2 separate regions of the Homo sapiens genome follow, and region 2 is linked to region 1. The links come from fine-mapping of genetic effects on gene expression. Tissue or cell type: whole blood. Region 1 holds a variant in brackets; the other region holds the start of a gene. All regions are shown on one strand. Distances are from middle to middle.

The links.
Region 2: it holds the start of JARID2, and the variant in region 1 is fine-mapped to the expression of JARID2 in whole blood (TOPMed, PIP above 0.99).

Annotation. Positions count from the first base shown.
Region 1 is chr6:15,217,850-15,223,219 of GRCh38, reverse strand. No RefSeq gene overlaps it. Among named protein-coding and RNA genes, the nearest start is that of JARID2-DT, 25 kb to the left of the region's middle. The variant C/A (reference allele first, on the strand shown) is at 3,349.
Region 2 is chr6:15,243,490-15,248,859 of GRCh38, reverse strand. It overlaps JARID2 (jumonji and AT-rich interaction domain containing 2), which reads right to left and starts at 2,791. Exons shown (of 18, transcript NM_004973.4): 1 at 2,276-2,791. The coding sequence starts at 2,320. JARID2-DT (JARID2 divergent transcript) reads left to right here and starts at 3,486. Exons shown (of 1, transcript NR_187237.1): 1 at 3,486-4,937. It overlaps JARID2-AS1 (JARID2 antisense RNA 1), which reads left to right and starts at 164. Exons shown (of 2, transcript NR_120502.1): 1 at 164-350; 2 at 716-1,045. RefSeq lists silencers at 1-418, 539-598, 3,584-3,843, 3,854-4,163 and enhancers at 2,714-2,813, 2,924-2,973, 4,163-4,676.

The DNA of each region.
Region 1 (5,370 bases):
ACGCCTGTAATCCCAGCACTTTGGGAGGCTGAGGCGGATCACCTGAGGTCGGGAGCTTGAGACCAGCCTTACCAACATGGTGTAACCCCTTCTCTACTAAAAATAAAAAATTAGCCGGGCGTGGTGGTGCATGGCTGCAATCTCAGCTACTTGGGAGGCTAAGGCAGAAGAATCGCTTGAACCCGGGAGGCAGAGGTTGCAGTGAGCCAAGATCTCGCTATTGCACTCCAGCCTGGGCAACAAGAGCGAAACTCCATCTCAAAAAAACAACCAACCAACCAACAACTACAAAAACACCTCAGCCCAGTTGTGGGTCTTTCCCAAGATCTAGGTGCATCTATTTGTACGACTGGAAATTACCCCAGAGCCTGAGGGATCAATAAACAGCTGAGTTTTTCCAGATTTTTTTTTTAACTTTTTTTTTTTTTTTTTTTTTTTGAGATGGAGTCTCGCTCTGTCGCCCAGGCTGGAGTGCAGTGGCGCGATCTCTGCTCACTGCAAGCTCCGCCTCCCGGGCTCACGCCATTCTCCTGCCTCAGCCTCCGGAGTAGCTGGGACTACAGGCGACCGCCACCACGCCCGGAGAATTTTTTGTATTTTTAGTGGAGACGGGGTTTCACCGTGTTAGCCAGGATGGTCTCGATCTCCTGACCTCGTGATCCACCCGCTTCGGCCTCCCAAAGTGCTGGGATTACAGGCGTGAGCCGCCGCGCCCGGCCTTGCTCCAGATTTTAAAGGGACAAGCATCAGTGGTGAAGAGATGCTCCCCGGGGCTGTCCCACCCAGCCTTCCATTCTTGCAATCACTGGCTGCAGGTGAGGGGAGACAGGAACCTCACTTGCTTGGCTGCACTTTTGTTTTTCCACAGAGTTCTTACTCCAAGAATCAGGGCTTCCTGATTGACCCGTCTGACTAGAATCACGGCTCTCTCATCCCGAACCATCCCGGCTCAGCTTCTGAAAGAAAAAACTTTCTAAACAGATGCTGCTCTCTGGGGACAGGCACTAAGGTTTCTGCAGCCTCTTAGTCTTTCAGTCACTTTAAGTCCTACTCCAGCTGGTGGCTGTGGCTACCTGTCAGAGAGAACATAGGTCTGTCTGACTTTCCTGATCTCCGGAGTGGAGACAGCCCTGCAGTGCAGGGTCAAGACAGGGCAGAACAGCCTGGCCTGACTCCTCTCCATGGGACTCCTCTCCATGAGTAGAGCAGGTTGGAATGGGGCCAGCTGACCTCTTCAGCTCTCAGCAAACTTTTTAAAGCCACCAGCCACGTGGCCTCCTTGACTCTGCAGTCTCCCTGACTGATGTAGAGTCTCCCTGACTGACCCTTTTTAAGCACAATAAATTTAACTTGGATTTCTTGGGGTCAAGCTAACCTCACCTAAAGAACTTGCTTAGCAGAGTTGAAGCATTGCTGAAAAATAACATTCATCTAGGAATAAAAATGACTTTGTTATGTAGGGATTTGACAGAACAAAGGGCAGCTGCTCTGAAATCAAGTAGGAACCCTGGGTTGAATTTGGTGGCTCACATTTGTAATCCTAGCACTTTGGGAGGCCAAGACAGGAGGATCGCTTAAGTCCAGGAATTCAAGACCAGCCTGGGCAATGTAGCAAAGCCCCATCTTTATATAAAATAATAATAATAATGAAAGTAGGAACACTGGTGTCCCTCTTGGCTCTTCCCTCCCCATATTCTCCCTAGCACCAACAGCCAATCAGTCACCTGATTCTTCTTATTTATTTTATTTTATTTATTTATTTTTTATTTTTTTATTTTTTTTTGAGACAGAGTCTCGCTTTGTCGCCCAGGCTGGAGTGCAGTGGTGGGATCTTGGCTCACTGCGAGCTCCACCTCCCGGGTGCACGCCATTCTCCTGCCTCAGCCTCCTGAGTAGCTGGGACTACAGGCACCTACCACCACGCCCGGCTAATTTTTTGTATTTTTATTAGAGATGGGGTTTCACCGTGTTAGCCAGGATGGTCTCAACCTTCTGACCTTGTGATCCGCCTGCCTCGGCCTCCCAAAGTGCTGGGATTACAGGCGTGAGCCACCACGCCCGGCGATTTTTCTTTTTATAAAGCACCTTTCAAACCCATCCACTTCTGTTTCTTTAACCTAGACCTTCATTAGCCTAGACTTTCAACTATTACTTGTCCCACTGCAACACCCTCCAAACTGGTCTTTCTGCCTCTTGCCTGGCTACAATCCATCCTCCCCAGGGAAAAGATTGGTCTTCCCACCATGCAATCCTAGCTAAGCACTTCGGTGGATCATCTGTGAGGACAGCCACCAACAAATTATTCTTTCTGTGAACAGGAACGGATGGAATCCATTTCCTCTCCCCCGCCTTTTTTTTTTAGAGTGGGGAGCTCTGGTGCAGGATCCCCTCCTCTTGAGTCTGGGTCTGTAAATTGCTTTTACCAACAGAGTGTGGTGAGGGTAATATTCTGGGACTTCTAAACCCAGGTGTTAAGAGCCCAGCTTCGCCAGGCATGGTGGCTCATGCTTGTAATCCCAGCACTTTGGGAGGCCCAGGTGGGTGGATCACTTGAGGTCAGGAGTTCAAAACCAGCCTGGCCAACATGGTAAAACCCCCCGTCTCTACTAAAAATACAAAAAAATTAGCTGTGCGTGGTGGTGGGCACCTGTAATCCCAGCTACTCAGGAGGCTGAGGCAGGAGAATCGCTTGAACCTGGAAGGCAGAGGTTGCAGTGAGCCGAGATGGCACCACTGCACTCCAGCCTGGGCAACAGAGCGAGACTCTATCTCAAAAAAAAAAAAAAAAAAAAAAAGAAGCCCAACTTCCTTTTCCTTCTCTTGTCCATCAGCTGCCATGTAAAGTCGTCTGATAGCCAGGTGTAGTGGTGCATACCTGTATGCTACTTGGAAGGCTAAAGCAGAAGGATTGCTTGAGCCTAGGAGTTTGAGGCTACAGTGAGCCAAGATCATGCCATTGCACTCTAGCCTGGGCAACAGAGCAAGACCCTGTCTCAAAAAAAAAAAAAAAAAGAGGCTCTGAGCCAGATTACTGGATGGTAAGAGATCAGGTGAAGATGCAGGGGACCAGCCAGCCTTCACACATTGCAGCCACCTAAGGCATCAGAGAAGTGAATGAAGTCATAGTGAACATTCTGCCAGTGACTTCAGATTCTCCAAGGCCTGTCAAGCCACTCCAGCGAGCACCATCTGGAGGAAGGAAGACCCATCTCTGTCAAGTGTTTAAACCACTAGATTTTGGCATCATTTTGACATGGTTTGTTACACAGCTATAGATAGCTGAAACATGCCCTAGTTTTTTTTTTTTTTTTTTTTAATTTAATTTTTTTTTTTGAGACAGAGTCTCAA[C/A]TTCCCAGGCTGGAGTACAGTGGCGCAATCTCAGCTCACTGCAACTTCCGCCTCCCAGGTTCAAGCAATTCTCCTGTCTCAGCTTCTCGAGTAGCCAAAACTACAGGCATGAGCTACCATGCCCAGCTAATTTTTTGTTTTTGTTTTTGTTTTGAGAAGGAGTCTTGCTCTGTCACCCAGGCTGGAGTGCAGTTGCGCCATCTCAGCTCACCGCAAGCTCCACCTCCTGGGTTACGCCATTCTCCTGCCTCAGCCTCTGGAGCAGCTGGGACTACAGGTGCCTGCCACCTCGCCCGGCTAATTTTTTGTATTTTTAGTAGAGACGGGGTTTCACCATGTTAGCCAGGATGTACTCGATCTCCTGACCTCATGATCCGCCCACCTTGGCCTCCCAAAGTGCTGGAATTACAGGCGTGAGCCACCGCGCCCGGCCTGTATTTTTAATAGAGACAGGGTATCTCCATGTTGGTCAGGCTGGTCTCGAACTCCTGACCTCAGATGATCACCCACCTCGGCCTCTGAAAGTGCTGAGATTACAGGCATGAGCCACCGCACCCAGCCTAACATGCCCTAGTCTTGTTTTTGTTTTTGTTTTTTGAGACGGAGTTTTGCTCTTGTCGCCCAGGGTGGAGTGCAATGGCGAGATCTCGGCTCACTGCAAACTCTGCCTCCTGGGTTCAAGTGATTCTCCAGCTTCAGTCTCCTGAGTAACTGGGATTACAGGAATGTGCCACCACGCCCAGCTAATTTTGTATTTTTAGTAGAGATTGGGTTTCACCATGTTGGTTAGGCCAGTTTCAGACTCCTGACCTCAAGTGATCCACCCACCTCAGCATCCCAAAGTGCTGGGATTACAGGCGTGAGAGCCACTGCGCCTGGCCAGCATGTGCTATTTAATATTTGATAAATGAATGACTAGCCAACTGAATGAAGGTTAGAACTATGGAATAGGCCAGGTGTGGTGGCTCACACCTGTGATCCAGCCCCCACCACCTGTGGTTCACCTGTCTTCAGCAGGCTTCCTTCCTCTGCAAGATTGTCGCCTACAGCAACCAGGGCTTACTCTGAAAGGGGAGAAAGCACTGCTCTCCATAATCATCCAACAGTTTGTACTTTCTTTCTTTCTTTTTTTTTCAAGGCGGAGTTTCACTGTTGTTGCCCAGGCTGGAGTACAACGGCGCGATCTCGGCTCACCGCAACCTCCGCTTCCCCGGTTCAAGCAATTTTCCTGCTTTAGCCTCCTGAGTAGCGGGATTACAGGCATGCACCACCGCACCCGGCTAATTTTGTATTTTTAGTAGAGTCAGGTTTCTCCATGTTGGTCAGGCTGGTTTCGAATTCCCGACCTCAGGTGATCCGCCCCCTCGGCCCCGCAAAGTGCTGGGATTACAGGCTTGAGCCACCGCACCAGGCCAGTTTGTACTTTGACAGTGATTGGCTCATCCCTGAACTACTCTAAGCAAATACTACGAGTTAACTGGTTTGGGTCTAGATTATTATCCATACATCACCCAATTACTGCGGCAGAGGAGTAGGTAACTTTAAACTGATTTATATATGCCAATTAAGGTCTATGCCTCAGAGCTGGGATAGGTTTATTCCTACTCAAGACTTAATGAGGGGCCTGGCACAGTGGCTCATGCCGGTAATCCCAGCACTTTGGGAGGCCCAAGGTGGGTGGATCATTTGAGGTCAGGCGTTCGAGACCGGCCTGGCCAACATAGGGAAACCCTGTCTCTACTAAAAATACAAAAATTAGCCAGGCGTGCTGGCAGGTGCCTATAATCCCTGCTACTTGGGAGGCTGAGGCTGGGAGAATTGCTTGAACCCGGGAGGTGGAGGTTGCCGTGAGCCGGAGATCCTGCCATTGCACTCCAGCCTGAGCGACAGAGTGAGACTGTCTCAAAAAAAACCCAAAAACCTATGGAATATTCGTTTTGGACTTGATCATTTTTTAAAATTTTTACTTATTTTTATCTTTATTTTTTCATGCTTGGACTGTTAGAGAAAGACTCATAATTT
Region 2 (5,370 bases), 26 kb before region 1:
CGCCCAGCTCCCTCCTCCCCCCGCCGCCCCGCCGCGCCTGGAGCCTCCCGCCCGACTTTTGACGTCACGGAGGAGGAGGGGAAGGTTCCACCCGAGCCCGTCCCTTTGTGACGTCACAATGACAACAGAGTGCGGCCGGGAGCGTCGGGGAACCGAGCGCCGCGGGGGGCGGAGGGAGGGAAGAAGGGCTGGGGCGCCGGCGCGCGGCGGGGGAAGAACCGGGGGGCGGAGAGGGGGCGCGCTGACGTCTCGCCGGCTTAACCTGTTGCTCTCGAGACTGCGTCGGAGCCCGCAGGCAGGGCCGCGGGAAGCCGGCCGGGCCGCCGCCGCCATGCTCGGCCGTGTGCGCGGTGGGGGGCGCCCGCTGCAGCTGTGCGCCGCGCGCCCCCTCCCCGGCACGCCCACGCCCCCGCCCCCGCTCCCACCCCCTCCCCGCGCGCTCTCCCCTCCCCGCGCCCCGCAGGCCGCGCCACCCCCGCGCCCCACCCGCCCTCCTGCCCGCCTGCAAGCCGGCCCGGGTAGACCGGTGCCCGCCTCGCGCGCCCGCCTAGAGCCCGGAGTATGCCCCCTATAGGCCGCGCGCGCGCGCCCGCCCGCCCAGCCCCGGCCCAGCCTGCCGCGACCCCCGCGGGCCGTCCCTTTCGCAGCCGGCTCGAGGACGTCGGGAACACCGGCTCTGCTCCCGGTGCATTAACTCGTGCCGTGCCTCCCGCAGCCGCCGCCAGCCACGGGCTTGCAGCCGGACGCCCGGACTCGGAGACACGATCCGCTGAACGCCCGCAATAAGAAAGAAAACCCACCCCACGCTGCTCTCCACCTCAACGAGGTCCGGAATGGGAGGCGGGGTGCGGTTCTCGTCCAAGTTCTACCCCATTTGCTTTGTGGCTGCATCCGAAACGGACGTGCCCCGGGAAGGCGTCCACGCTCCAAGACAAGGTTGCCTCAGTGCAGTTTCTACAGCCCGAGTTTAAACTAGTCCTTTGCATTCTACCCAGCCCTCTGCAATGCGGATGTATTTTAATTCTTAAATTCTTTATGGAACAGCTTTCTAAGTTGGGCTTGATTATTTAACCTTGCATTTCTTTCATAGTTGAAGTTGACGTGTCTAGATAAGGATCAGCTCTCTTGAAGAGGCATTCAGCTTTTCCATTAAATATATTTTTTTACAAAACCAGTGCCCCGAAGGTCATCTCTCATTACACACACCACAATGATCAAAAAGGGAAAATATTAACACCAATTTGTCTACCCAACTTAAATAAACTTTCCTCTTACGTTGCATTATTCCTAAGGTATGTTCATTTGGCCTTTTTTGAAAAAAAAAAAGAGTTATTTAATTTAAAGCATGCAGCTAATCACAGATCACTCGAGTGCATATTTGGTTAATCCCTCGGTCCCCCTTTCCTCCCTCCCCTCAAACTTAAAAAAAAAAAAAAGCCACCACACACAAAACAAAAACACTCCCCATGCCAATCAAAACGTAGCTGTACTATGCACAAAACAAATTTAACTATTCCAAGCCATTTAAATCTAGGAATAATCACCCAATTTCAGAAGCCCAGTTAACAGGGAGAAATTATTTGTAGTTACTTACATATGCATTCACGTACACACTTAAAAACATTAGCCATAGTGTGTGTCCTTTTCCCCTACAACTGGAAACCATGAATTTTTTAAACAAAACCAGCCTCATTATTAAAGTCAATCCCAACAAATGCATTCGCTGTAACATGATTCCCAACTGGTTTATGTTGCAAACCAGATAAGCCAAAACGACCACAGACATTAAATTTGATGTGCCAGTGCAAAGAGAAGATCGCCATAATCGGACCCTCGATCGCAACTTAAAGGGCTTCCAACACACATGCGTTACACGATTTTTCCAAATAACATTAATAATAATAACACAGGCTCATTTGCATGCAAAGTGCAATACGGGGCCAAATCCGCTTGAGAATGCAGTTTAGTTACATTACCGCAGCCACCCCCCACCTCAAGCTCCACCAAAATCCCTTGCCTTTCATCTAAAAGTAGATTATGGTTGTGTCATTCGAGGTCAATTTATTCACTTGAGGTATCTCTACACCAGTCTGTTTTTTCAACCAAACTAGGCAGACACCACTTTGCTTGAAAAGCCCTCTTTCAGAAAAAAAAGAAACAGCCTTATCGGACGCTGTGTTTAAAACCCTTCAGAGGCAGAATTATCTATAAACTTGACATTCACAGCCATTGCTTAAAACTGCAAGTCAAAGGATGTGTTGTTAGGAGCACTTACGTATTTCTTCTGAATGATATTCCTCTTGGGTCTTTCCTTGCTCATTCTGAGATCCAAATGCTGATTGCAAAAGGGGACAATTGCTTCATGAATTTAAAGCCGTCAGAAATTTGCAAAAAAATATCCTGGTGGTTTTTATTGTTGTTGGTGGTGGTTGATCTTGTAATCCGACTTTTCTTCCTCTTCCCCCAAAGCCAGATTCGCCTTGAAATAAATCCGAAATTGGGAAGGAAAAAAAAAGAGCCAAAGACGAACGAAGCAAACAAAAAAAAATTCACTTTAGTAAAACACTCATAATGGAAAATTTCCCCCGAAACACATACACACACACACAAAAAAAAACCGACGCCCTTCACTCCCCCCCCTTTTTCCTCCAAAAACTACATCAGCGAAACGTGAAGGTCCTTAGTGTCTGATCCGTAGTTACATCTTGGAAAAGAAAAGGGAAAGATAAATAAAAAATGTTGGAAGTCACGTTTGTGCTGCAGCAGCAGTGCGAGCAGAAGAGTCAACTCCAGCGGCGGCGGCGGCGGCGGCGGCAGCACCACAGCGAGGGCTCGCCGAGTCTCTTTTTTCCAAGCCCCCTAACCAATGAGAGAGAGGCTATCCAGCCCAACTTTAAATGGACTCTGCTTTTATACAAGTTAGGGCTCCTCGGATAATTCCCCGCCGGGCGCCAGCCGAAAACTCCCACCGCTCAGCCGCCAGGCGCCCGCTTAGCCTGGTGCCGACCGCCCCTGGCCCAGTCCAGGGCACCCCCGCAGCCTGGCCAACCAGACACCCGAGCGACCTCGACGAACCCCTCCCAGGCAAGCCCTCGGGCGTCGCTCCCACGCCGAGCCCAGGCGTGGAATTGAGAGAGGCTCCCTAGCTCAATGCATGGCACGCTCCGTCGCTCCACCTCACCCCCTTTCCCCTGCCTGCCGCTCACCCCACGGCCGCCCCACGCCAGCCCCCGCCACTGCCTTCGCGTCTACCTGCAGCCGGGCTGCTGGGTAGGAGTGCCCCAGGACGCCCGGCCCCGGGGAGAGCCGCCTATTCCCGGGGCACCTTAGAATGGTCCCCTTGATCTTCTGGAAGTTGTAGTCCCCCGACTACAAAATGGCTATGGCCACGGAAGCTGGGAACTACAATTCCCAGCCTGCCCCGCAAAGCCTGTCACTCAACTCCCCTCCCTCCTCCTCGCCCCCTCCCCCTCACTGGCCGTGCCAACAAACGCTTGGACGTGTCCCGCGTGCGACACTGCTAGAGGCTGGCTCGGGATTGGCCCGCGGAGCGTGTGGTCCGCGAGCGAGGAACTCCCCACGCCGGCCCTCCTCCGCCCCCCGGGCCCCGGCCCCCCTCCCCTGGCGGCCGCCAGCCCCCTCCCCGCGCGCCCCGCCCCCACCCGCGGCGCGAACCGCCTGTGGAATCGAGGAATCGCGCGCGTGCGGCCCGGAGCCGCGGGGGAGGGACGCGAGGCTTCCCCGGGGAAGGCCTCGGAGCGTGGCGGTGAGGGGGGCGGTGTCAGGGAGGGGTTGGAGCCCGTCCTAAGGAAAACTGGGCCACGCACCAAGAGGAATCCTCGGTGCGAACTAGTTGATCGGCGGCGCCTGCTGCTTGTGCCGTGCAGCCGGTGTCACCTCAGGACAGCGCCTCGCGTCTGTGTACAGAGCGTGCTGCGGGCGCCTAGGGTAGTCCGAGGTCACCCCTCTCCGCGCCCCGCAGTCGCGCACGCCCCCACGCGCGGGGTGGGCGGTGGCCGGGGGTCGCCGAGTGGAAAGGCCACGCCCCCCCACGCCCGGGCTCGGCACGCTGCCCCTGGGTCGCGAACGCGCCTCCGCTCGACCCGCTTGGAGGACGTCGCTGGTGGCCCAGGAGTGAAGCCCCGGCGGCTGCCTCCTGAGAAAAGATAGCCGTGTTTAAAGAGACTGAACGGGATCTTTGCTTTGCCGGGCGTATTTTGTGATAAAATACCACAAAATGTTGAGACAAAAATGAGTGGAATATGGAGACCGAGCCGCACAGACACGCAATTGTAAGGAAACATCTCGAACACCGAGTGCCAGGAATATCAACTGTCCGGGCCACGCAAGAGCCTGCTTTTTACCTGCCTCCAGCCCCCTGTCGTGCTGGTTTAATCGCTGAAACAAATGAAGTAGCAGGCCCTGGCATAGCGCTTTGGGCCTTCGCCTTATTAACAACTTTGTCAAGTCTCGCATCGCGATTCTGCCTTGTTAATTTCCTTGTTTTTCGCTGTGGTTTTGGAGAAGCAATGTTTTCCATGATCTCTCAGGCTAGCCTCGGAATAAAACGTGGCAGAAGCGCTCCCGCGAACACATACCCATATATTTTATTCTACCTATTCCCTAGAGTCTGCTAACTTCAAAAGTCTAGATACTCACACAGCTGTTTACTTGCAGCAGTATTTGAAGAGATAACCTTGGTGTCTAGAAAGGTCTCAGAAACTGGAGGTAAGAGACCTGGATTCAAATCGCGCCTTGGCCACTTCCCAAAAGGCAACCGAGAGCCTCTCTGAGCTTGTCAGTTTCCGCATCTGCAAATTAGTGGTGATCAAACCTGTGGGGATGATTATGTGATAAATAACAGTAACCTAGTTTAAAACTAGGCACGTTATTGGAAGCTTTCAGTAAACGAAATAAAAAGCCTTTTCGAGAGGGTATTTTCCTTATTATTTTTACCTTTTCAAAAAATCTGAAATGAAATAATTTTATCTAATGTTCACTTCACAATTGGAAAAATAAATGATCTTTTGTGCCCTGAATACTGCAAAACTTGTACGCTGGTGCCATTTCCTGGGAAGGATCCAATGGGGCAGACTACAGTAGGGCCACCCAAGGTGTTTTCTAAAAACTTTCTGATCATTAGGACTGGCATACTGGGAATCTCCACGTCTCCACGTTGTTAAGATTTTAACCAGCTTTCTGTAAGTTTAACGCAGATACCTCATTCCCTAGGCAAATATTAATGAACAAAGGTGAGTTTCTTTTCTGTTCCCCTAACTAGCCCTGGGGCCTGGACTTCTCAGTCCTGGGCTTGCGAACTCCCCTGCCAGGCTACCAGCTCCAGGTCACCTGGTGTGAAAAACTATTGTG